Linked DNA regions of Homo sapiens. The protein of the gene in region 3 purifies or fractionates together with the protein of the main gene of each other region. This does not show direct contact. Each region holds a gene or a part of one and is shown on either strand. Other genes may lie near its edges. The genes, in order: ZFHX4, AHCTF1, AFG3L2, SUPV3L1, TBX2 and TBX3.

The links.
Region 1: the proteins of AFG3L2 (region 3) and ZFHX4 purify together in Homo sapiens (affinity purification with mass spectrometry; one large-scale study listed by BioGRID and IntAct). This does not show direct contact.
Region 2: the proteins of AFG3L2 (region 3) and AHCTF1 purify together in Homo sapiens (affinity purification with mass spectrometry; one large-scale study listed by BioGRID and IntAct). This does not show direct contact.
Region 4: the proteins of AFG3L2 (region 3) and SUPV3L1 purify together in Homo sapiens (affinity purification with mass spectrometry; one large-scale study listed by BioGRID and IntAct). This does not show direct contact.
Region 5: the proteins of AFG3L2 (region 3) and TBX2 purify together in Homo sapiens (affinity purification with mass spectrometry; one large-scale study listed by BioGRID and IntAct). This does not show direct contact.
Region 6: the proteins of AFG3L2 (region 3) and TBX3 purify together in Homo sapiens (affinity purification with mass spectrometry; one large-scale study listed by BioGRID and IntAct). This does not show direct contact.

The regions. Positions count from the first base shown.
Region 1 is NC_000008.11:76,684,247-76,687,746, forward strand, and holds part of ZFHX4 (zinc finger homeobox protein 4), read left to right. Parts: intron 1-3,500. UniProt on the Homo sapiens protein: May play a role in neural and muscle differentiation. May be involved in transcriptional regulation.
Region 2 is NC_000001.11:246,844,949-246,848,448, forward strand, and holds part of AHCTF1 (protein ELYS), read right to left. Parts: intron 1-3,500. UniProt on the Homo sapiens protein: Required for the assembly of a functional nuclear pore complex (NPC) on the surface of chromosomes as nuclei form at the end of mitosis. May initiate NPC assembly by binding to chromatin and recruiting the Nup107-160 subcomplex of the NPC.
Region 3 is NC_000018.10:12,370,728-12,374,227, reverse strand, and holds part of AFG3L2 (mitochondrial inner membrane m-AAA protease component AFG3L2), read left to right. Parts: intron 1-2,536; coding exon 2,537-2,636; intron 2,637-3,301; coding exon 3,302-3,379; intron 3,380-3,500. UniProt on the Homo sapiens protein: Catalytic component of the m-AAA protease, a protease that plays a key role in proteostasis of inner mitochondrial membrane proteins, and which is essential for axonal and neuron development.
Region 4 is NC_000010.11:69,197,234-69,200,733, reverse strand, and holds part of SUPV3L1 (ATP-dependent RNA helicase SUPV3L1, mitochondrial), read right to left. Parts: intron 2,363-3,500; coding exon 2,182-2,362; intron 1,631-2,181; coding exon 1,537-1,630; intron 455-1,536; coding exon 235-454; intron 1-234. UniProt on the Homo sapiens protein: Major helicase player in mitochondrial RNA metabolism. Component of the mitochondrial degradosome (mtEXO) complex, that degrades 3' overhang double-stranded RNA with a 3'-to-5' directionality in an ATP-dependent manner.
Region 5 is NC_000017.11:61,398,593-61,402,642, reverse strand, and holds the start of TBX2 (T-box transcription factor TBX2), read right to left. Parts: upstream 2,801-4,050; 5' UTR 2,467-2,800; coding exon 2,072-2,466; intron 960-2,071; coding exon 692-959; intron 1-691. UniProt on the Homo sapiens protein: Transcription factor which acts as a transcriptional repressor. May also function as a transcriptional activator.
Region 6 is NC_000012.12:114,674,176-114,677,675, reverse strand, and holds part of TBX3 (T-box transcription factor TBX3), read left to right. Parts: intron 1-19; coding exon 20-96; intron 97-1,205; coding exon 1,206-1,363; intron 1,364-2,840; coding exon 2,841-3,500.

The DNA.
Region 1 (3,500 bases), on a different chromosome or scaffold from region 3:
TCATCTTAAAAAAAAAAATCCTTAAGGGAATATTTGATAGTTTTCAAGGTTTGTGGTTTCAGTCAGCAGGAAGGCACACAAAAATAAAAGATGGCTAGCCAGCTGTTTTAACCTCTTGCACCTGGCTTCAGTGTGGGGATCATAAGGTTTATACAGTTCTTTTTTTGAATGGTTTTAATATTTATGGCATAAACTGGGGAGAGCACCACTGTGTTTTTATTCAGTTGCTGGTTGATTTTGGATTTTTAAAAAAGTAAACTCATATTTAGGTGTTTTCATGTTTATGGCAATGAAGATAGGGTCAATGAAATATGGGGGAAATATCATAAATCTGAAAAGTGAAATGTACCCAAGGAACAAAGAAAGGTCAGGTAAACCAGCTGTGTAAGTCAAAGCAATAGCACCAACTGTGGGGTTAGACAGGGATAGTGGACTCTGGTTCTATGAAGTGAAAGTTGCCACTTAAAGTTAAAAATGAGGCAAACATGTTCAGTGCTTTTGTAATCTTTTGCAGTTTTTAGCAGATGAGCCCAAATCTGTTCATTAATTTTGAGCTAGTTGGATTATTTTAAAAGATTCTTCATGAGCAAAGGAAAACATAAAGGAGGCTGAGAAAATCACTGTTTAATATTGCAGAATTTACTGCTTCCATTCTGACCATGAGCCTAAATTTACACAATGAAATTTGATTATCTCTAATAACAATATTAGATCCTGCACTGGATGGATGAGAATTGAGGTGGTTTTGTTGATTGCAAGGGTTTAATGTTGCATTTCAGAATCTGATGTGGTTTGGCCTCCCCTCCATTAACTGGAAAACCCCTGAGGTTTTACAATTATTTCTTAAAGATAATACATTTAAGATTGCATTGGTAGGCTGAAGAAAAGTCATAAAGGCAAGAAGGGAAGCCCTTAATAACTCTTGAGATTCAGACATGTTCAGCAGTTAGATTGGCTCTGACTTCACCAAGGGTCGACAATGTGTCATTTCCACGAAGCCAAATTGCCCTCTGCCTATATGATATTAATGTGCAAATCAATATTTCAGGGATTAAATTTCCCTCCTTCATTTTTTATGGTTTCTACCTCAATAAGTCTCAAGTCTATTAGAAGAGGCTGGATGATTTAAAATCTTTCACTGCAGAATGGCTTGTCGTAGTCTTGTTTCATAGACCGTTTTAGGATTTTCGTTATAAAGACTAAAGACATCCTAAAGAAGTTGTGAGGCAGTGTAGACCCAGGCTCAATAGTGTAAAGCCCGTGTTCGATTAAGAACTAAAAGATATTGAAAATATAATATATACGTTTATGTAATATATATGTACATTCTGCTGCTTTAAAAATATTATGTTAATCACCTATTGATTTATTTCAAAATCAATTGAAGCTTCTTTCTTATTAGTGATTTGTTCAGCTTTCTTGAGGACTGTGTTAATTTTCTTAAAGAGTATGCATGAATTAGCTTGGTGTGAAAGTATTGGGGCAGAGGAGTTTTCAATTAGCAATATTTTCCTAAGAAATATTTTCAGCAACCATTGTTTAGGAGAGTAATAATCAAGAGGTGTCATTTGCATACATTGTTGTTATAGCTATCATTGCATTTTGTGGCTGAATGACTTAGCTGATCTATGTTAAATGAGGCCTTCTTCAATTCCTTTTACATTTTGTTTCTAGCACTTAGTAGGTGCAACGTTTCTTTTTATCCTCTTAGAGAAAGAAAATTATGAAACAAAATATGTGACTTGACTGGAAAGAATACAGAGCAGAAATTTGGAGAGAGGTCAAAATAAAAGATTGTGACTTTATCACATAATCTTGGGAAGGCCTACTGTCTATCATTTGGTGGTGTTTTATGGTCTTAAACCCTCTGGACCAAGTTCCGCACAGCTGCACGAATTTCATATGTGATAGAACATTTTTTCCATTCAGTGTGAAATGTTCCTTCCTAAAAAACGTACACCAGACTCGCTTAATTTAGTCTGTTAAAAGAAATGCACATGAAAAAGGACAAAAGGCTCTTTAATCTCTGCAAGCTGTTTGTTTTTCTTCAAGATTCCTGTCTATTTGGGTTTGAAAAGTCATGTTTATTGAGGAGATGATTCTGAGGTGTGACATTAAAATAATATATGATTTTTGGACTGGTGGCCACGCTTCTGCTTAATTTGCAGAACTACTTTTTATGCCTGTCAAAACACAGCGTTAATCTATCCTTATTTACAATTAATCTCAATAAAATTAATCTTAACTATGCTTTATTCAGTGGCTTAAAATATCTAATTATATTCAATTAACTGCTGTCATAGTAATTAATATTGCTTAATTGACTCTGCATATATTTATGTAAAGCTCATTAGGTGCTGCTGACTCCTTTTCCCTTTCCTACTTGCTATTTTTGCTGTTGTCAAACCATGTTCATCTCCCAAGGTTCGACAATGTCAATGAGAACAAATTCTTTCTTAACATTTTCTTGAAATGAATGTTCCTGCCTTCCTTTGAGAAGATACTCGTTATGAGTCTTTAAAGACTAATCCATCTCCCTCTCTTCATTTTCCTTATCCCTGGTCTCTAGCACTCTCACAAAATATGTTCTGTCATTGTTGCTAGAAATATGAGAAGCCAGGTTAAGCTTTGTGTTTATAAATGAGGAGCCTTTCTGTGACTGCCTAAGGGCTGTACCCACAGGGAGAGGGTTTCCCCCCCTTCTAAGACCACTCTAAGGGTTAAAGACTTGGCCAAGGTTCAAACTGAGAAGCGCCCAGGGAAAGTGCATGTGAATATGTACAAGTTTCATGTAATTAGTGCTTAATTATATTAACATATGCAAATTGTCAACTTAGGAGCTTGTTGAGCTGGCAAAGATCAGCTAGGCACAATTGCAGTATTGTTCTGAAACAATAATGGATTTCAAGTTGGATTGTGGAAACACATAACTAGCTATCTAATTTAACTCATACCGTGGTGAAATTTCATTAGTCTCCATGGAGACTGGTTTAATTGTGCTGACTAATGTTCTGGGCTGCAGAATGTCCTAAAAAGAAAGCGTTGTTTGCCTAATCCACCTTACAATGACACTTGTTTGTACATGTTTCCCTTGTGTGAGAATTTGCATATGCAAATAAATAGTTTCTCTGCCCCATTTGTCATGGCTGTTCATTACCCATGAAGAGGACATTGTTACTAGGCTGTTACTGAGTCTCCCAAGACGGGATAGTGTCAACCAGTCCAGCTACATTCTTTCATAATTTGTTTCTGATTAATAGACCAGAGTGAGTCTCATTCTTTTTGGGCATCTGTAAAAGGAAGGTCACTTCTGTCACAGAAAAGAGTTTCTGCAGTAACTGAAGGACTTTTTCTTCTTCTTATTCTCCCTTTTCCACCCATTGGTTAACATAATCATATTTAAAATAATGGATTCTTGTTCTAAGAATGCCTCTACTAATAATCTCTGGTTTCCTAAAGCAAAAAGATAGGAAAAGAAAAGAGATTCTGTTATTGGAATA
Region 2 (3,500 bases), on a different chromosome or scaffold from region 3:
AAACCTGTCTGTGCATCAGTTTCTATAAAATAGGGTTAATAGTAGCATCTATCTCAAAGTTGTTCTGAGGATGAAAGAAGCAGAACAATGTGTGGCAGGGTAGGTGGTAAGTGCTCTACAGATGTTTGCATTTGTTATTTCAAGAATATCATTTACAAACCCTTGAAATAAAATCACAGTTCATGTTACTTCAGCTACTGGGATAGTCAAGAGTTCTATCAAATTCTGCTTTTCGAGCATGATTCTTTAAAAAAATGTTTTTTGTGGGTACACAGTAGGTGTATATATAAAAATGTTTTTTGTGGGTACACAGTAGGTGTATATATAAAAATGTTTTCTGTGGGTACACAGTAGGTGTATATATAAAAATGTTTTTTGTGGGTACACAGTAGGTGTATATATAAGCATATGATTCTTAAAAAAAAGAAAAATAGAGTTGATATCAGATATCAGAAATATATAATCTCTGCTCCCAGCTTGTAAATGGCAGAAATGGCAATGGCTAGGTCTACTGGTGGTCTCTCTCTTGGCTTCAAGAAACAGATGAACAAAAGTATTTCTACGAAAATTATACATTCTATAACTCTCTTCTAGGCTACCTGAAAAAACGATTTATTTCACTTTTCGTAATCTTCACCTAAGCTTTCCTACTCCATTTCAAATATATAAGGAAATACAAAAATATACTATCACATGCAAAAATAGCCTCCACCATTTTTTCCATGTGCTTCTATTATAGCACAGATGAGACTTTCTTGAGTGTATGTCAATTCTTTACCCATCTCTTGTTTTGAGGATTAAGGAGTTCAAAAGGCCTAGGTTCAAACCCAACTGTGTCCTAGCAAATGACTCTGGAAATTCAAAGAGAGCTCTGATTTGCAGCATTTGCTGATTTCTAAGGTATAAATGTGCCTCCTGTGGCCAATGCAAACCATGGCTGGGTTACAAGTTCTTGGATATTTAACAATTGGCTCTTACCAGCCAGTAGTAGCAGTAGTAGCTCTAGAACAACACATCTTACTTATTCCCTGGGTGATGTGAGTGCACAGTCTCAATGAACTTCAGTTTCCTCAATGAGGACAGAAGGAAGTAAAAGTACCTACACTTTACTGGGTTGAAGTGGGAATCAAACGATATATGAATGTCATGTATCTAGTATGGCCTTAGGTATATAGCAGGCCCTTCTTAATATCTGCTGTATGAAATGTGAAGTTTCATATTCATTTAGTAAAACACAAAATTCTAAGATAATTTCTTCGCTATGTTTCAATAAAATAAAGGACCACCTCTAGCCTTCCAATCATATAGTATACCTATACCCAGTCTTCTCGGCACCTGCATCCCTATGTAAAAACGAAGTTTAGAATATAAATAGGCACAAGGGACAGAAAGTATGGTAACAGTATAAAGGGCAGAGGAAGACAGGAAGCTATGTCCTAGAGTGGTCATTGCTTTGTTAAAGGAGTGAATACTCATAAGAACCCCTGTAAGGTATGCACTACCACATTCATTCTAGGAGGAGGAAACAAGGCTCATAAAGGTTAAATGATTTTCTGCCCAGCTAGTAAGTGGCAGAAATGAGAGATCTCAATCCCAAGTTTCTTATCCCTTCCAATCCCATCATCTCATTCTAGCAGGTGCCTATTTTTAATATTAAAAAATCTGAAAGCAATTCAAATACCCAACAGAAGAGGGTTTAAACAATCTGTGGCACATTTGTGAGATGAAATGCCAATATGAAAAAAAAAGAAATATTACGTTTAAGATTTTGAAATATATATACATATACATATATATATTTTTTGGGGGGATGGGGGTGGGGAGGTGACAGGATCTCAATCTGTCACCTGGGCTGGAGCACAGTGGTGTGATGGCTCACTGCAACCTCAACCTCCCGGGCTCAAGCCATCCTCACACCTCAGCCTCCCAAGTAGCTGGGACTACAGGTGCAGCCACCACATGCCCAAATCATTAAAAATTTTTCTTTTGTAGAGATGGGGTCCCACTAAGTTGCCCAGGCTGGTTGGATTTTGAAGAATATTTAAGATTAACTGAAGGCTGGGCACAGTGGCTCATGCCTATAATCCCAGCACTTTGGGAGGCCAAGGCGGGTGGATTATCTGAGGTCAGGCGTTTGAGACTAGCTTGGCCAACATGGCGAAACCCTGTCTCTACTAAAAATACAAAAAAATGACCCAGGCGTGGTGGCAAGCACCTGTAATCCCAGCTACTGGGGAGGCTGAGGCAGGAGAATTGTTTGAACTCAGGAGGCGGAGGTTGCAGTGAGCCAAGATCACACCATTGCACTCCAGCCTGGGTAACAACAGCCAAACTCCATCTCAAAAAAAAAAAACAAACAAAAAAAAAACTGAAAATGCTCATGACATAAGTAGGGGGACAAAAGCAGAATATATGCACGTACATAAACTGCAGGTTTTTAAATACCAACCATACATATGTATCTGGAACGATATACAGGAAAACGTGAATGGTGATTCTTTCGATGGCTGGATTATATACTTCTATTTTAGAGTTTTCAGTAAGTAGGCATGTATTGTTTTTGTTTTGAGACGTGGTCTTGCTCTGTTGCCCAGGCTGGAGTGCAGGGGCACACGATCATGGCTCACTGCAGCCTCAAACTCTCAGGCTCAAGTGATCCTCCTGCCTCAGCCTCCCAAGTAGCTGGGACCACAAGCCTATGCCACCAGGTCTGGCTAATTTTTGTACTTTTTGTAGAGATGGGGTTTTTTTGGCCATGTTGTTGCAGGTATTTTTAGTTTAACAGAAAAAAGTTAAAATTAGTAGGTACAGAAATGAAAAATAGGTAAAGATGACAAAAATCAGAATTACTGAGATGTTTGCTAAGCTCTAACAAAATAACTCTCACTTTTGGTGGTTACTATATTCCTCCAGGTCCTGAGGAGTGTATAAGTTATGTGAATGACTTCCTGCCACTCCCTGCCAATAAAATGTTTTTCATTTTAACTTTTTAATAAAACCTTAATAAAATGAACTTAAAAAAAGTTGGCTAAAATATCACACATTCTGTCATTTCATTCTCCTCCATGCAAAACATAGGTCTAACCACACTTTTCTAACACTGTGAAGAAATTAAGTTATACTACCAAAATCGAAGATCCAATTAAAAATTTTCTGAGTGACGAGGGGAGAGGAGGATCCCCTATAGCTACAAATCATTTTTAGGACAAATGATCAATTGTTATGGGGAGAGTCATTCTCCTGGGCTCAAACTGTATCAGTACAACAAGTCATCTACTTTATTTATTATTATTATTATTTGGCCCCCCGGGCTGGAATACAGTGGCACAATCTTGGATCACTGCAAGCTCTGCCTCCCAGGTTCACACCATTCTCCTGCCTCAGTCTCCCGAGTAGCTGGGACTACAGGCGCCCGCCACCACGCCCGGATAATTTCTTTGTATTTTTTTTAGTAGTGTTAGCCAGGATGGTCTCGATCTCCTGATCTCGTGATCCACCCG
Region 3 (3,500 bases):
CTAGACATGCAGATCTTGGATTACATATGCAGAGGAGAAGAAGTTTCATTGATGATTTCTTCATAGAACACAACCTCAGTGTTAAATTCAGTCACGGATTATTGCTAGGGATATTCCATGTCAACACAATTTGAAAATAGAGCCTAAAAAGGGCTTTTCTGTCAATATTTATGGAGCGCATACAGTGCCCTGTTCTGTACTAAACTTTATGGTGATATAAAGACTTGCTTTATATGGTACTATGGTTTGAGTTTGGCCTCACCAAAACTCATGTTGAAATTTGTTCCCCATCGTGGTGGTATTGAGAGGTGGGGCCCAGTGGGAGGTGTTTGGGCCATGGGGGTGGAGCTCTCATGAGTGTCTTGGTGCCATTCTAGAGGTAGTGAGTTCTGTGAGCTGTATTGGGACTGGCTTAATTTCAGAGACCTTAGGTTGTTATAAAGTAGAAGTTCCTCCCTCATGGTATGTGGCTGCTTTGCCATTGACCTTCTCCCACCGTGTTTTGATGTAGCACCTTCTCCTGCCATAATTTGACCTAGCATGTGACCCTCACCATAAGCCCAGCACCCTGTTTCTCATACTTCCCCTCTTGCAGAACTGTGAGCTAAATAAACCTTTCTTTGTAAATTACCCAGCTTCAGGCACTCTGTTATAGCGGAACAGAAAGGACTAAGACTAAGACGTGGCAATATAAAGACCCCTTCATATTACCTCTGCACCACTCCTGTTCCCTGTACTCAGAGCTTTTGTTTGGTTACATTGTTATGCCATAGTGTAACTGATTTGTCCCATGATTTTCTTCCCTATGTTTCTGTGCTTCTTAGGGGTGGGAACTGGTTCTGATTCCCCTTCGGACACCCCACTGCTTGACAGCACCTGGCCTGGAGTTGTTGACTTGTCTAGCTTGAATAACATTTCATTTTAATCTACACCCTTAATGGATTTGGCACTGGAAAAAAACTCTTATGTTGCATTCTTATCTGTTATCAGTGGTTATTTCATAGGCCAAGTGTTCCTGTGGTTGGGCAGGGTGTAACACAACATAAGCTCCAAAGTCTCCCAGGCCAGTATTGCACTCAGACAAAAACAGTGTTGGTGTTCCTGTCCTGTTTTGCTGTGTGGAATTCTGTATTTATTTGAAGTTAAATCATCTCATTCTGTTTTATTTGTTTTTTATTGACATTTTAATTTACAAACCATTGTTCATCTTAAATGTACAGTTCATTGGTTTTTAACATATTCATAAAGTTATGCAACCATCATCACTGTCTCCAATTCCAGAACATTTTCAGCACTCCAGAAAGAAGCCCTGCGACCATTAGTAATCATTTCGCATTTCTCTGTAATCATTCCCCCAACTCTAGGCAACTACTAATGTGTCTATCTCTCTATGGATTTGCCTATTCTAGACATTTCGTATAAATGGAATCATAATATGTGACCTTTTGTGTCTGCCTTCTTTCACTTAATATGATGTTTTCAGAGTTCATCCACGTGTCAGTACTTCATTCCTTTGTTTGAGTGACTGGTATTCTCTTGTATGGGTATACCACATTTTATTTATCTGTTCATCATCAGGTGGTGAACGTTTGGCTTGTTCCTACTTTTTGACTGTTATGAATAAGGCTTCTGTGAACATTTGTGTGCATATTTTTCGTGGACATGTGTTTTCAGCTTCCTTGGGTAGGGATGGCATTGCTGGGTCATATGGTGACCCATAGAGTCATGTGGTACCATTTTGGAGCTCTGTCAAACTGTTTTCCAGAGTGGCTACACCATTTTACATTCTCACCAGCACAGTGTACAGGGCTCCAGTTTCTCACATCCTCACCCATACTTGTCTGTCTTTTTGATTATAGTGGATGTGAGGTGGTTTTATTTGGTTTTGTAATTTTTATAACTATTATTTTATTTTTATTTTTTTGAGACGGAGTCTCACTCCATCGCCCAGGCTGGAGTGCAGTGGCGTGATCTCGGCTCACTGCAACTTCTGCTGCCTGGGTTCAAGCAGTACTCCTGCCTCAGCCTCCCGAGTAGCTAGGATTACAGGCACCTGCCACTGTGCCTGGCTAATTTTTGTATTTTTAGTAGAGACGGGGTTTCACCATCTTGGCCAGGCTGGTCTTGAACTCCTGACCTCGTGATGCACCCACCTCGGCCTCCCAATGTACTGGGATTACAGGTGTGAGCCACTGCGCCTGGCCAGGGTTTGTCTTTTGAATGCTACAAATTAAACAAACATCATCAAAGTGAATGTGTTGTCACATAATTATAATTGGATTGCAATTCTACATTATGTCTGATTTTGAAATATTCTTGTTTTCTGGATAATAATGTGTGTCTCCTGGTTCTTTTGCTGGAATCAGTGGCCTAGTGCTAGGTAATCCTAGTCCTCACTAAGGGAGTCATTCTGTGTTACTTCATAACCACCTGTGGAAGAGAGAGACCTTTCATCTACTTTATGACCAGGAAATGAAGCTCTTTTAAGTTTTTTATCTTGATATAACTATGGTTTTATTTTTATGTCTTGTTGCAGCTTTACCGATTTGTTACAACTCAAGCAAGGGCCAGCAGAAATTCTCTTTTGACAGATATAATTGCTGCTTATCAAAGATTCTGTTCTCGACCCCCAAAAGGTAAATGCTTAGGTGTGGCTGTAGTGTTCTACATTCTTAGGTTGGGTCTTTTGTCTCCTTCTGTAACCCATTCCCCTGCCTCCAACTTATGTCTGATTACAGCGATGAAGATATGTCATCTTCAAATGTAACACATTTGTAGATAATGAAATTGATATGCAAAAAGGAGGCTTTTTCCTTTAACACTTCTGGGTTGTGAACTATATTATTTAGACTTTGATGTACTTGTACACAAGAAATGTTATGCTTTTAGCTTGTGCTTTTTTTTTTTTTTTTGGAGACTGAGTTTGGCTCTTGTCGCCCAGGTTGGAGTGCACTAGTGCGATCTTGGCGTACTGCAACCTCCGCCTTCTGGGTTCAAGCGATTCTCCTGCCTCAGCCTCCCGAGTAGCTGGGATTACAGGCACCTGCCACCACACCCAGCCAATTTTTTGTACTTTTAGTAGAGTCGGAGTTTCGCCATGTTGGGCAGGCTGGTCTCGAACTCCTGACCTCAGGTGATCTGCCCACCTCAGCCTCCCAAAGTGCTGGGATTACAGGCATGAGCCATTGCGCCTGGCCAGCTTGTGCTTTTCAGTGATGCATCAGCTGCTTTGAAAACAAAATGAACACAAACCTGATGAATTTTAGTTTGAAGATAAGTATTTTTTTTCTTTTTCTAACAGGATTTGAAAAATACTTTCCTAATGGAAAAAATGGAAAAAAAGCTAGTGAACCTAAAGAAGTTATGGGAGAGAAAAAAGGTACCTTTTGACAATATTATATTTGAATTTTGTGTTTTCCCCTCATGTATAATGGTGGTAGTTTCCACTGAACAAAGAAAAGAGTTATCAGGCCGGGCACAGTGTCTCACGCCTGTAATCC
Region 4 (3,500 bases), on a different chromosome or scaffold from region 3:
ACTAAACTTTGTCAATCTGGACCTTCACTTGCATACCATTCTCTGATCAAAGAACTCTGTGGCTCTCCAAAGCAATAAAGTAGGGCTTTTTTTAATGCAGTTTTCATGGCACAAAATTTTCTTTCACTTATGTCTGTATCCAGAAATGTGTCTGAGGTGAGAGTCTGGATGGTGGGTGAGGGAAAGAATGACTCTCCTCCACAGAGAAGCAGTAGTTAACATGTTACCTCTTACCCTTATAGGATCCACAGGCCTCTTCAAAATTTCCTTTAATAAACTGAGATCTTCATGATTCATTGTTGTAACCTCTCCTTCTTTAAACCGTGAGCTGAATCTGCCAGCTCTGCCAGCAATCTGCAGGGCTTGAGAGGTTGTGATTGGTTCTAGTTCTCTCTCTCCCTTTTCATTGATACTGGGCTTTATAAGGGAGTAAAAAATAATTCTCCTTATGCTCCTGAAACAGAAATAAAAGTGATCCTGCAGACTGTATGAAAAACCCTCCAATACTTGGGTCATTGCATAATGCTCACTCCAATACTAGCTTAGGTCCTCTTGCAACCTTGACTGCCACTTACAAAATTAAGGAAAGTCTGGCACAGTGGCTCACACCCATAATCCCAGCACTTTGGGAGGCTGAGGCAGGAGGATTGTTTTGAGGCCAGGAGTTCAAAACCAGCCTGGGCAACATAGCAAGACCCAAGTCTCTACAAAAAATTAAAAACATCAGCTAGGTTCAGTGGTGTGTGCCTGTTGCTCTAGTACTCGGGGGGCTGAGGCACAAAGACCGCTTGAGCCCAGGAGTTTGAAGCTGCGGTGAGCCATGATCACACCACTGTACTCCGGCGTGGGGCACAGAGTGAGACTCTGTCTCAGAAATAAATAAATACATAAATAAATAATATTTAGGCTTAACATTGTTATCATTTAGAGATAATAACTAGCCCCATGTGCATAATAGGCACTCGGACACCTGACTGAGAAACTGAAAGTAAAGTGACGTAGTACAATAGGTTAGCAGTAGTGGTGGGCAGCATTCAAACGTCCTAGTGTGGGCCGAGTGTAGTGGCTCATGCCTGTAATCCTAGCACTTTGGGAGGCTGAGGTGGGAAGATCACTGGAGGCCAGGAGTTAGAGACTAGCTTGGGCAACAGGGTAAGACCTTGTCACTACCCAAAAAAAAAGAAAATAACCAGGCTTTGTGGTGTGCACCTGTGGTCCCAGCTACTCTGGAGGCTGAGGCAGGAGGATCACTTGGGCCCAGGAGTTCAAGACTGCACTGAGCTACAATTTGATCACTGCACTCCAGCGTGGGTAAAAGAGCAAGACCCTGTCCCTAAGAAAAGTCCTGGCACTATTTAATATTTTCTTTTTATTTCCCTCAATAGGTGTAGGCAAGACAAACCTCAAATCTAGCCTATAATATTTATTCTCCCAAATCATAGCGTTTGGTCATTAATGCCAATTAGAAAACTGAAAAACAAAAAAACCACCATTTAACTCACCAAATATTCATCTTATTAAAAACAAATTACTTACAAATTAAGTCCCATGCCAATTGCATCTGTAGCAACCAAGATTTTGCATGGGTCATTGGGATCATTAAACTTTTTTGCTTGAGCAAGTTTGGTCCCTAAAACAAGAACAATTTATGTTAAATCAGTGTTCTCAGTCTTTTATTACATCAAGCTAAGTACATCTTGGAAACCCTCACCTCCTGTTCTTCCCATTTTTAATGATAAAACCTTTACTGTTTCAAACTTTATTTCTTTATATCCTCAAAGAGCCACTTATCCTTTACATCCATTCCTTCAAATACTCCGTCATATAGCAACACAATCCCCCACCACACTAGCCTTATTCCTGAGGACACAGATTTCAGGACTACAACTTAAAAGGACATGGTCAAGACCAGATTTCAATGACATTTCTGTAAGAAAATAATAAACTCAACATTTAAGATACAGTCTAATAATAGCAGCAACTAACAAGAACTATAATTAAAATACTTCTATTTCCACTAAGATGAAATAGAAAATTATTTATTTTATATGACGTTTAACAAATTACCAATACATCAAGCAGCTTAATTCAATATTGTTTACCATTTTTTTATATATATCTCAACATAAATTGCAAAGATAGGAGATTTCATATCTTGTCACGAGGAAAGTCAATAATTACCAGGTGGGAGACTGCCATATATAACAGCTGATTCTAATCCCCGAATTTCAATCTGCCGACTCACAGAATAAATATCATTCTTGCTAAAACAGACAATGCAGTCCCCAGGCCGAAGGTTATCTAAAGATTCTAGTGCATGGTCCAGCACAGAAATGGGGGTAAGCCTCTTATAGTCTCGAACCTACAATAAAGACATGAAATGGCAAAATGACACACCCAACTCAACTTCTTGTGACTAGTAATTAAGTGAAAAGATTGTAATGCAGTTAAGAGTAGCTAAAAACTGATAAGTACCAATGTTTTTCAAAAGAAAACACAGAAAAACATTTATTTTGATATTATAAGTGTTACCATCACTTCTCATTGGCATCTCTAAATTAATAAGATGAAACAGAGTGTTTCACCTGTTTTCAAAGCTTTTTCTCATATATTTCATTTTCACGGCAATGTGTTAAGTTCAGAAAGGTTATTAACTGCTATTTCCATTTTATAAAATAGTAAAACTGAGCCCAATAAAAAATTAATGTCTGAGGCACATTTTGCAAGTCTAACCTTCTGTGACTTGTCTAAAGAATGCAAAGCTAAGAATGGCAAAACACAGAATGGACTCCAAAATTTCTTCCACTATATTCCACTATCTCTCCTTGAAAACTGAGCACAAAACTAAAATAACAGGCTAATTCAAAACTATTTCCTTGGCTTATGCTTATAATCCCAGCACTTTGGGAGGCCAAGGTGGGAGAATTGCTTGAGCACTGGAGTTCGAGACCAGCCTTGGTAACACAGTGAGATGCCCTCTGCTCAAAAAATAAAAAATTAGATGGGCATGGTGGCAAACACCTGTAGTCCCAGCTATTTGGGAGGCTGAAGTGGGAGGATCACTTGAGTCCAGGAGGCTGAGACTGCAGTGAGTTGTGATTGCACCACAGCACTCCAGCCTGGGTAACAGAGTGAGACCTTGTCTCAAAAAATAATAATAATAATAATAATTCATTTTACTATAGAACTCTGGTAAAGAAAAAGAGAAGCAGGATTAAAAGGAAACCAGTTACTTCCAACTCTAAGAATTTCAAAAAGGAATATAAACTGTGTCTGGCAATTAGATGTGTATCAAAGGCCCCAATATCTGACATACAACACTTTGAAAACGACAAACTTGCTGGGTCTCCAACTTCTAAGAGTACTGATTTATTTAATTCGAAGAGATCTACTCAAGCCCCACAAGGTTTTGTCAAGAAGTGAAGAATTTCCTGTACTCTTGGAAGACTTAGGGTGTGATGACCACTCTGTCAGAACTTCAGATCATGAGGTTCAATCAA
Region 5 (4,050 bases), on a different chromosome or scaffold from region 3:
TGGCACTGGTAAACCCCCTAACCCCACAAAGAGGAGATTCCAACCTTCGGGGGCTCACCAACTGCCCTACCTCAGAATGGGCAGTTCCTTTTACCCTATGAAACACCACCCCCGTTCGCTGGGGCCTTGCTCAGGCATAAATGGAGAGAACCCCCAAACCCTCTCCTCCTAGTTGGGCATCTGCCTGTGGGAGGAGGGAAAGGTCTTAGGGAGGCTGGGGGGGTGGGTGGGGAGGGTGGTTTAACTTTTAAATCCCCTAGTCTTGGGGGAGGGCCAGGGACGCGGGTCTTGGCAGAAGGGTGATGGACAAGTTGAGGTCATGGGCAGGTCTTCCAAGCTCGGCACCTACAGGCCAAGAGCAGGGTGACCTCCGTGGTCCAGCACTGCAGACCCAGTCCTGGCAGCACCTGCCTCCCTATTGACGGTACAAGGGACCCTCCACGGCCTGAGGAACTGAGATTGTGAGCTGCCAGCCACTGACCCCACCATTTCCCAGGCTTGCAAAGGAGAGCGCTGGGGCCCAGGCCCAGGCCCAGCCCACGTAGACCACAGGGCAGTGACCCGGGCAGGGGCACTCTGGGGGTTTGCCCAGCGCTTCCCCCTGGGAGATCCTGCCGCCCTGCTCTCCTGCTCAGCTGCAGTGCTGGGTCAACAAGCTCCTGCACCGTCCCCACCCTGCCCCAACACTCACGAAGCCGTGCTTGTCAGAGATGTTGTTGGTCAGCTTCAGCTTGTGGAAGGCCACAGGCTTAGCCATCCACTGCTCCCCCGTGGCTGGGCTGTCTGGGTGGATGTACATGCGTTTGGGCATCTCAGGGTCGGCCTTGCCCGCCACCATCCAGCGCGAGTTGTGGAACTTATAGCGGCAATCGTCAGCGGCTACAATGTCCATCAGCAGGATATACTTGGCCTTCTTGTCCAGGCCGCTGACTCGCACCTTGAAGGGGGGGAACATCCGCCTGGGAGGGAGGGAAGGGAGGAGATCCCATTGGAACCGGCTGTTCTAGGTTCCAGGACCCCACTCCTCCTTTATTTATCCCTCCTCGTTGCGCACACCGCTGCCGCCTGGCTGTTTCCCCTGTGGTCGGCTGCTCTGCCCTCTCATCACTGCCCGGACGACCCCACCTGTGGTTGTTGCTCCCAGGAGATCCCATTTCTGCCTGTCAGACCCTCTCCTAAACAGCCTCCTTTAGGCCTTGTGCTCAGATCTGGGGACCCTCTTTCTCCCTGATCTGAGATGAAAGCTGATGCCCAGGAGAGAAGTCTAGGCCCTCTAGAAATATTCTCGCTTCTCCTTAATCTCCCCGAAATTCGTTCAGGGGAAATACCCACTTGGGACGGAAGCTCCCAGAAATAAATCTGGAGGGTGTTTGTATTGGGAACTGGGCTACAGAGCCTGATAAGACATCCTGGCCGTGCAGTTCGGGGGAAGAGGGTGAACCCGAGGCCTGGATTCTCGGTGGCTGAGTCGAAGGGTGGAGGGGCCGGGGCTGTGGCTTTCTTCAGGCTTTAAGGCCTGGGGCGGCGGATGCGTCCAGGGCTCGGATGCCCGCGGTGGAGAAAGGGCTCCCAGCCCGGTGAGGCGGAGGGCTCGGCTGACCCGGGGCTCGCTGCCAGGAACCGAGCAACCAGCGTGGGGTTAGCTGGGCCCAGGTCCCACTAGGGGCTTCGGGGTCGGAGCAGAGTCTGAGAGAGGCTGAATTTCCCCCGAGCTCGGAGACGGACCCGGACGCAGAAGAGCGAGAGCGCGGGGCGGAGGAGACCGCCAGGGCCAAGCCGCGGGGCCTCCTCTGCGCTGGGACTCAGAACGGTTGGGGCTATTCTTTAGCAGTATGTTTTCGTTTTATTTCATTCGGAGGATTTTAGCGTTTTTGTTTTAAAAAAAAATCGCTCCGGTGCCAAACGAGAAAAGTCAACTTGGTTGTCCGTGGGAGCGAAGCGTGGCGTCAGGGCCAGAACCTGGAGCCGGGAGCCGGGAGCCGGGAGTCCCCAGCTCTGCTCTGATCCGTGCAGTCCCGTGCCCCAGCCCGCCCGCCCGCCCGCGCGCCTTCCAGCCGGCCGGCAGCCCTACCTCCCGGACTTGGTGATGACCATCTCCGTGCCTAGCTTGTGGAACTGGTCCCACAGCTCCTTGGCCTCCAGCGTCACCTTGGGGTCGTCCTCCACCTCGTCCTCGGGCTCCAGGCTCTTGAGGGAGCGCAGATGCGCGGCGGGCGGGTGCGGGCCCAGTGCCGAGACGTGCAGCCCCGCCTCGGCCGCTGCTGCCGCCGCCGCCGCCGCGGCCGCCGCCCCCGCCAGGCCCGGGTCGGGCAGCGGCTTGGCCAGCGCGCCGGGCGGCAGCGCGAGTGCCGGGAAGAAGGAGGGCTGCGCCGCCGCCAGAAAGGCGGACATGGGGAAGTCGGCGGGCCGTGGCGCGTGGAACGGGTGGTAAGCCATGGCGCTGGCCGCCAGCGCCGGCTCTCTCATCGGGACATCCGGCCCAGGCGCCCGGGGGCCGGGGCCGGGGCCGGGGGCGCGCGGCTCGGACCCCCGGCCCGGGCGGCGGCGCGCGCGGTGGACGGACGACCCGGGTGGCGGGCGCAGCAGCTGCTCCTCGGGGCTTCCCGTCCGGCGCACCGCAAGGGGCACCCGGCTCTGTGCGCGGGGGCGGCGGGGGCTCTGCGCGGGGCCGGGCTGGGCCGGGCTGAGCTGGCCCGCTCCGGCGCCGGGGACCACGCGCGACTGGTTAGATCTTGTCGTGATCTCTGGAAAACTGTGACTATCTCACATGTCCTGCCCAGCTCGGATCCCCTGCGCTAACGAGCCAGGCCCCCCTTGATTGCTGATTTTACGCTTTTTGGACCAATTGTGGGTCTCCGGGGGCGGGGTTTTGACAGCTCAGGCCAAGCTCCGGCCGGGAGGGGGGGCCTGGGAGAAGGTGTCGGAAGCCTCAGCAGTAAGAAAACATGTCAACAGAATAAAATATTAACCAATGACGGGCCGCCGGGCCCCGAGACCCCTCCTCCTGCCCCGGCCCCCACCGCCCGCCCGCGCCTGCGGCTGCCTGCGCCGGACTGGAGAGCGCGGAGGGCCGACCTGACCCGCCGAAAGGGCCTGAGGCGAGGGGAGCCCGGGTCCCGGGGCCTTGGGGAAGGACCCGCAGCCGCACGCCGGCCCCAAGTGCAAAGCATTGACACGACCCCGAGCGGAGAGGGGGCGCCCTCCTTCTCCCGCGCCCAGAGGCCCGGCCGCTCTGGCCCGAGCCCCAGCCTGGCCTCCGACCCAGCTCCGGGTCGTGGCGCCGCCTGGGGGTCCCTGCGCCCCGGAAAGAGACAGCAGGCACTGGAAAGCGAGGCCGGTGGGCGGGCGAGTCGGGAGGCTCGGGCGGCCGAGGTCCGGGAGCGGATCCCAGGTGGCGGGAGCTGGTGAGTGGAGCCATGGCCGAGCCCTGCTGGGGCCGGCGCGGGCGGGAGCGGGACGCGGCCTTGCGCTGGGGAAACGCGGGGACCCCCTACCCGCGCCCGCCTTCACCGGAAGACTCGGAAGGAACCTGGAGTTCTCCGCAGGCCCGGGCCCCGCCCTGAGCTTTCCAGCGGCCGGGAGGAGCGGATCCTCGGGGCCAGGAAGGTGAGCGCACCTTTCGCTGAGCACAGGGCGGCACCGCGCGGGCGGACCCCGGATTCTCCACCCGCGACCCAACGAATTTTCGCCCTATCCGGTACCGGAGACGAAAGTCTCCTTCTTCCGAAATACCGGCTTCCTCTCTTCGCCCTGCCAACCACTTTTTTAGTTTCTTCTCATCTCTCGGAAGCGCACGTCTCCTAAGTTAAGGAGTGCTGAGTAACGCGTGAGGGAGTTGGGGTGTCTGCGAGCACCTGTGATTGAAGCCCCCTCTTCTGTGATCAGTCTTCGTTTTCTGTCTTCCGGCAGCCTCAGTTTCCCCCCCATGAAGTGATGGTGTGTGTGTGTGTGTGTGTGTGTGTGTGTGTGTGTGTGTGTGTGTCGGGCCCCGTGTGGTGCCCTCTGTGCGCAGCGAGAGCTATAACTCAAGGTGTGCACGGGGAGAGTGAA
Region 6 (3,500 bases), on a different chromosome or scaffold from region 3:
CTTGTGTCTCTTCCAATAGATAACCCAGTTAAAAATAGACAACAACCCTTTTGCAAAAGGTTTCCGGGACACTGGAAATGGCCGAAGAGAAAAAAGGTGAGTTGAAACAATTATTTATTAGATAGTTTAGAAAAATCCCTTTTTTTAGGATCCAACTCTGAAGTGTTAGAAGTGAGATGCAGGCACTTATCCTAAGAGCGGGTGGAAATCATTCACTTTCCCCACTGCTACATGCTTGCCGCTATCAGTATACCCAGGACAAGTACTTTTCCTACCTCCTTACCTTTAAGGAAATTAACTAGGCTACACCATACTTATCTCTGGAAGAGAAGCATCAGGGATAATAGATTATACAGGGATGCCTATTAATTCCTAATTAATTTAAGTTCATCCTAGGCAGGTCCCAGAAAGAACCATGCCATTGAGAAAATACTTGGGAATTTTTGCAATCCTGTCTTCCAAATACCATCAGACAGAGCTGGGGACTTCGGAAAGATGTATGGCTCTCTCCCTCCTTCGTGGGGACATGTATCATTTTGCATTACGTAGACAGCTGGAGAGTATATGAAAGAGGGTCTCCCCTCCCCCACCCCCTTTCAAAGAATTTCTAAAATCCAGAAAATCACCCCCAAATTTTTAACCTATCCCCTTGGGGCGGGCATTAAAAAATAATTGCTAACAGCTAAATATATTTTTATTCCAATTAATTTGTTAGTAAAACGATTACAGTAAAGTGCAGCATGAAATAACCACTTCCTCCCAATCTTAGCCACCATCCAAAATTTGGGTATGCTGGGGACAGACAGCGTTGTGTTTGCAGGATTGGACACCCGGTTCTCCCTATATAAGGCTGGCAGTCCAGCTGTCTCTGACTAGATCCAGCCTCTTCTCCTGCTTTTAAATAAAATTTCACAGCCCAAGCAAATGCCTTTTCCTAATGAAACCCCATCTTGAATAAATGCAACTGAAGCCTCCTTCCTTTCTCCCTAACCCTCTGCCACACTCTTCAGCCCAGTTAGAGGGTCAAGGACAAAGCTTGGGTCTATGTGGCTGCCCTGGGGCAAGCAGATTTCAGTGAATTAGCGTTGTCCCTGGGCAGCAGGCAGGGTGTGAGGTATGTGTGTGCCGCTTTGGAAAGGGTAAGGGAAACAAAGAGGGGAAATGTATGTTACATTCTGTAACCTGGGTGTGGGCTTCTGCCACAGAAAACAGCTCACCCTGCAGTCCATGAGGGTGTTTGATGAAAGACACAAAAAGGAGAATGGGACCTCTGATGAGTCCTCCAGTGAACAAGCAGCTTTCAACTGCTTCGCCCAGGCTTCTTCTCCAGCCGCCTCCACTGTAGGGACATCGAACCTCAAAGGTAAACCATGTCACCTTTGTGATCACTGGACTCCAGTCCCTCGTGGCCTGGAAGAGTTGAAGGGGGATGGGGCACCAACCAGGGCACTTGCCCTTTAAAAGCTAGAAGCCTTCTAAACATCCTTAAACAGAAGCCAGAGTTCAAAAAGGGCTATCAGGTGTGTCTCCCCTTCCCCGCTAAGGCAGTAGAAGGAGAGCACAGAGGCCTTTCTCCCAGATCCTTATTTGGCTGGTGGGGAGGGGAGGTGGGTGTCTGTTTGCATACTACCTCTTGGCAAGCAGCTTTGAAAACTTGCTTGAAGCGCTTCTCTCTTTTCTCTCTGTCTCTGTTTCTTTCTCCTCCCATTCTCTCCAACCAACAGAGGCTCCAACTGCTGACTTTTCACTGTCTTTGAACTCTAGGTTACAATGTGTTGGACTGGGTGGGGGGGAAGCAAGGGACTCTGCCACCTGGAACCGAGAAGGTGGCCTAGAAAACATCCAGCTATAAAGCAACAATTGACCTGGGAGAGGAGGTGGAGCACTGGGGATCTGCGGTGGGGGTAGAGCTGGGGGAGGTGGGTGAGGAGTGGACAAGATGGCTCAAATCCCCCCTCAGTTACCTGTGTTTAAAGAGCAAGCAGTATTTATTTGGAAAGACACACACACACACACACACACACACACACACACACACACACTCTCAACGGGAAGAAACCTGTTTTTTAGTGAAATAAAATGCAAGTCCTTTATGTCTTCAATCCATTTAAGCTTTAAACATAAAATAGGATCCCTTTTTCTTTTCTTCTGGTGGAACACCCACAGAGGGTGTGGTAAAAGCGAAAAAAGAATCTATGATCGTCCCCGGGCTGTGAGCCATCTGTCCGACACTCATCTCTCTCTGCAGGGACTGGGGCAAATACAAACGGTTCAACTGAGTACTGGTGTTGAAGGACAGGTGTCCGTTCTGCCATTATCAATTCAGATGTCAGGGTTCTTGCCAAACAAATCCTTCCAGAGTAATTCACAAATTTGTGGAAGGTGCTGCTCTCTGTCATTCACTGATTTTTTGATAGTAATTAGAATATGTTCCAGCTGTGAGTTTTAATGTTACTTTTTACTTTTAAAAAGTTAATTTGCAATCGAATGGGGAGATGCATGTGAAATCTGCCACTGTAGGAACTCAAAAAAAGAAGTAAAATTCATTAAAATAAGAAGAGCTACTGATTAGGGGATTGTCCATCTAAGGGAAAGTTTAAACTCTGGGTAAATACTTTAAATTCATAATCGCTTATTGAATTTTCCAGCAATGTTGTTGGGCACGATTATCCCCATTTTGCAGATGACAACACTGAGGTGCAGAGAGGCTAAGGGGCTTTCCCCGGGATTACACAGCCACTAAGCCACGAGCTGGGATTCCAACTTGGGAACTGGAGTTCCGTTGGCTCATACTGGAGATAACGCCCTTCTGCCTTGGTTTTTTCCTTCGCCTGTGGTAGATTTATGTCCCAGCGAGGGTGAGAGCGACGCCGAGGCCGAGAGCAAAGAGGAGCATGGCCCCGAGGCCTGCGACGCGGCCAAGATCTCCACCACCACGTCGGAGGAGCCCTGCCGTGACAAGGGCAGCCCCGCGGTCAAGGCTCACCTTTTCGCTGCTGAGCGGCCCCGGGACAGCGGGCGGCTGGACAAAGCGTCGCCCGACTCACGCCATAGCCCCGCCACCATCTCGTCCAGCACTCGCGGCCTGGGCGCGGAGGAGCGCAGGAGCCCGGTTCGCGAGGGCACAGCGCCGGCCAAGGTGGAAGAGGCGCGCGCGCTCCCGGGCAAGGAGGCCTTCGCGCCGCTCACGGTGCAGACGGACGCGGCCGCCGCGCACCTGGCCCAGGGCCCCCTGCCTGGCCTCGGCTTCGCCCCGGGCCTGGCGGGCCAACAGTTCTTCAACGGGCACCCGCTCTTCCTGCACCCCAGCCAGTTTGCCATGGGGGGCGCCTTCTCCAGCATGGCGGCCGCTGGCATGGGTCCCCTCCTGGCCACGGTTTCTGGGGCCTCCACCGGTGTCTCGGGCCTGGATTCCACGGCCATGGCCTCTGCCGCTGCGGCGCAGGGACTGTCCGGGGCGTCCGCGGCCACCCTGCCCTTCCACCTCCAGCAGCACGTCC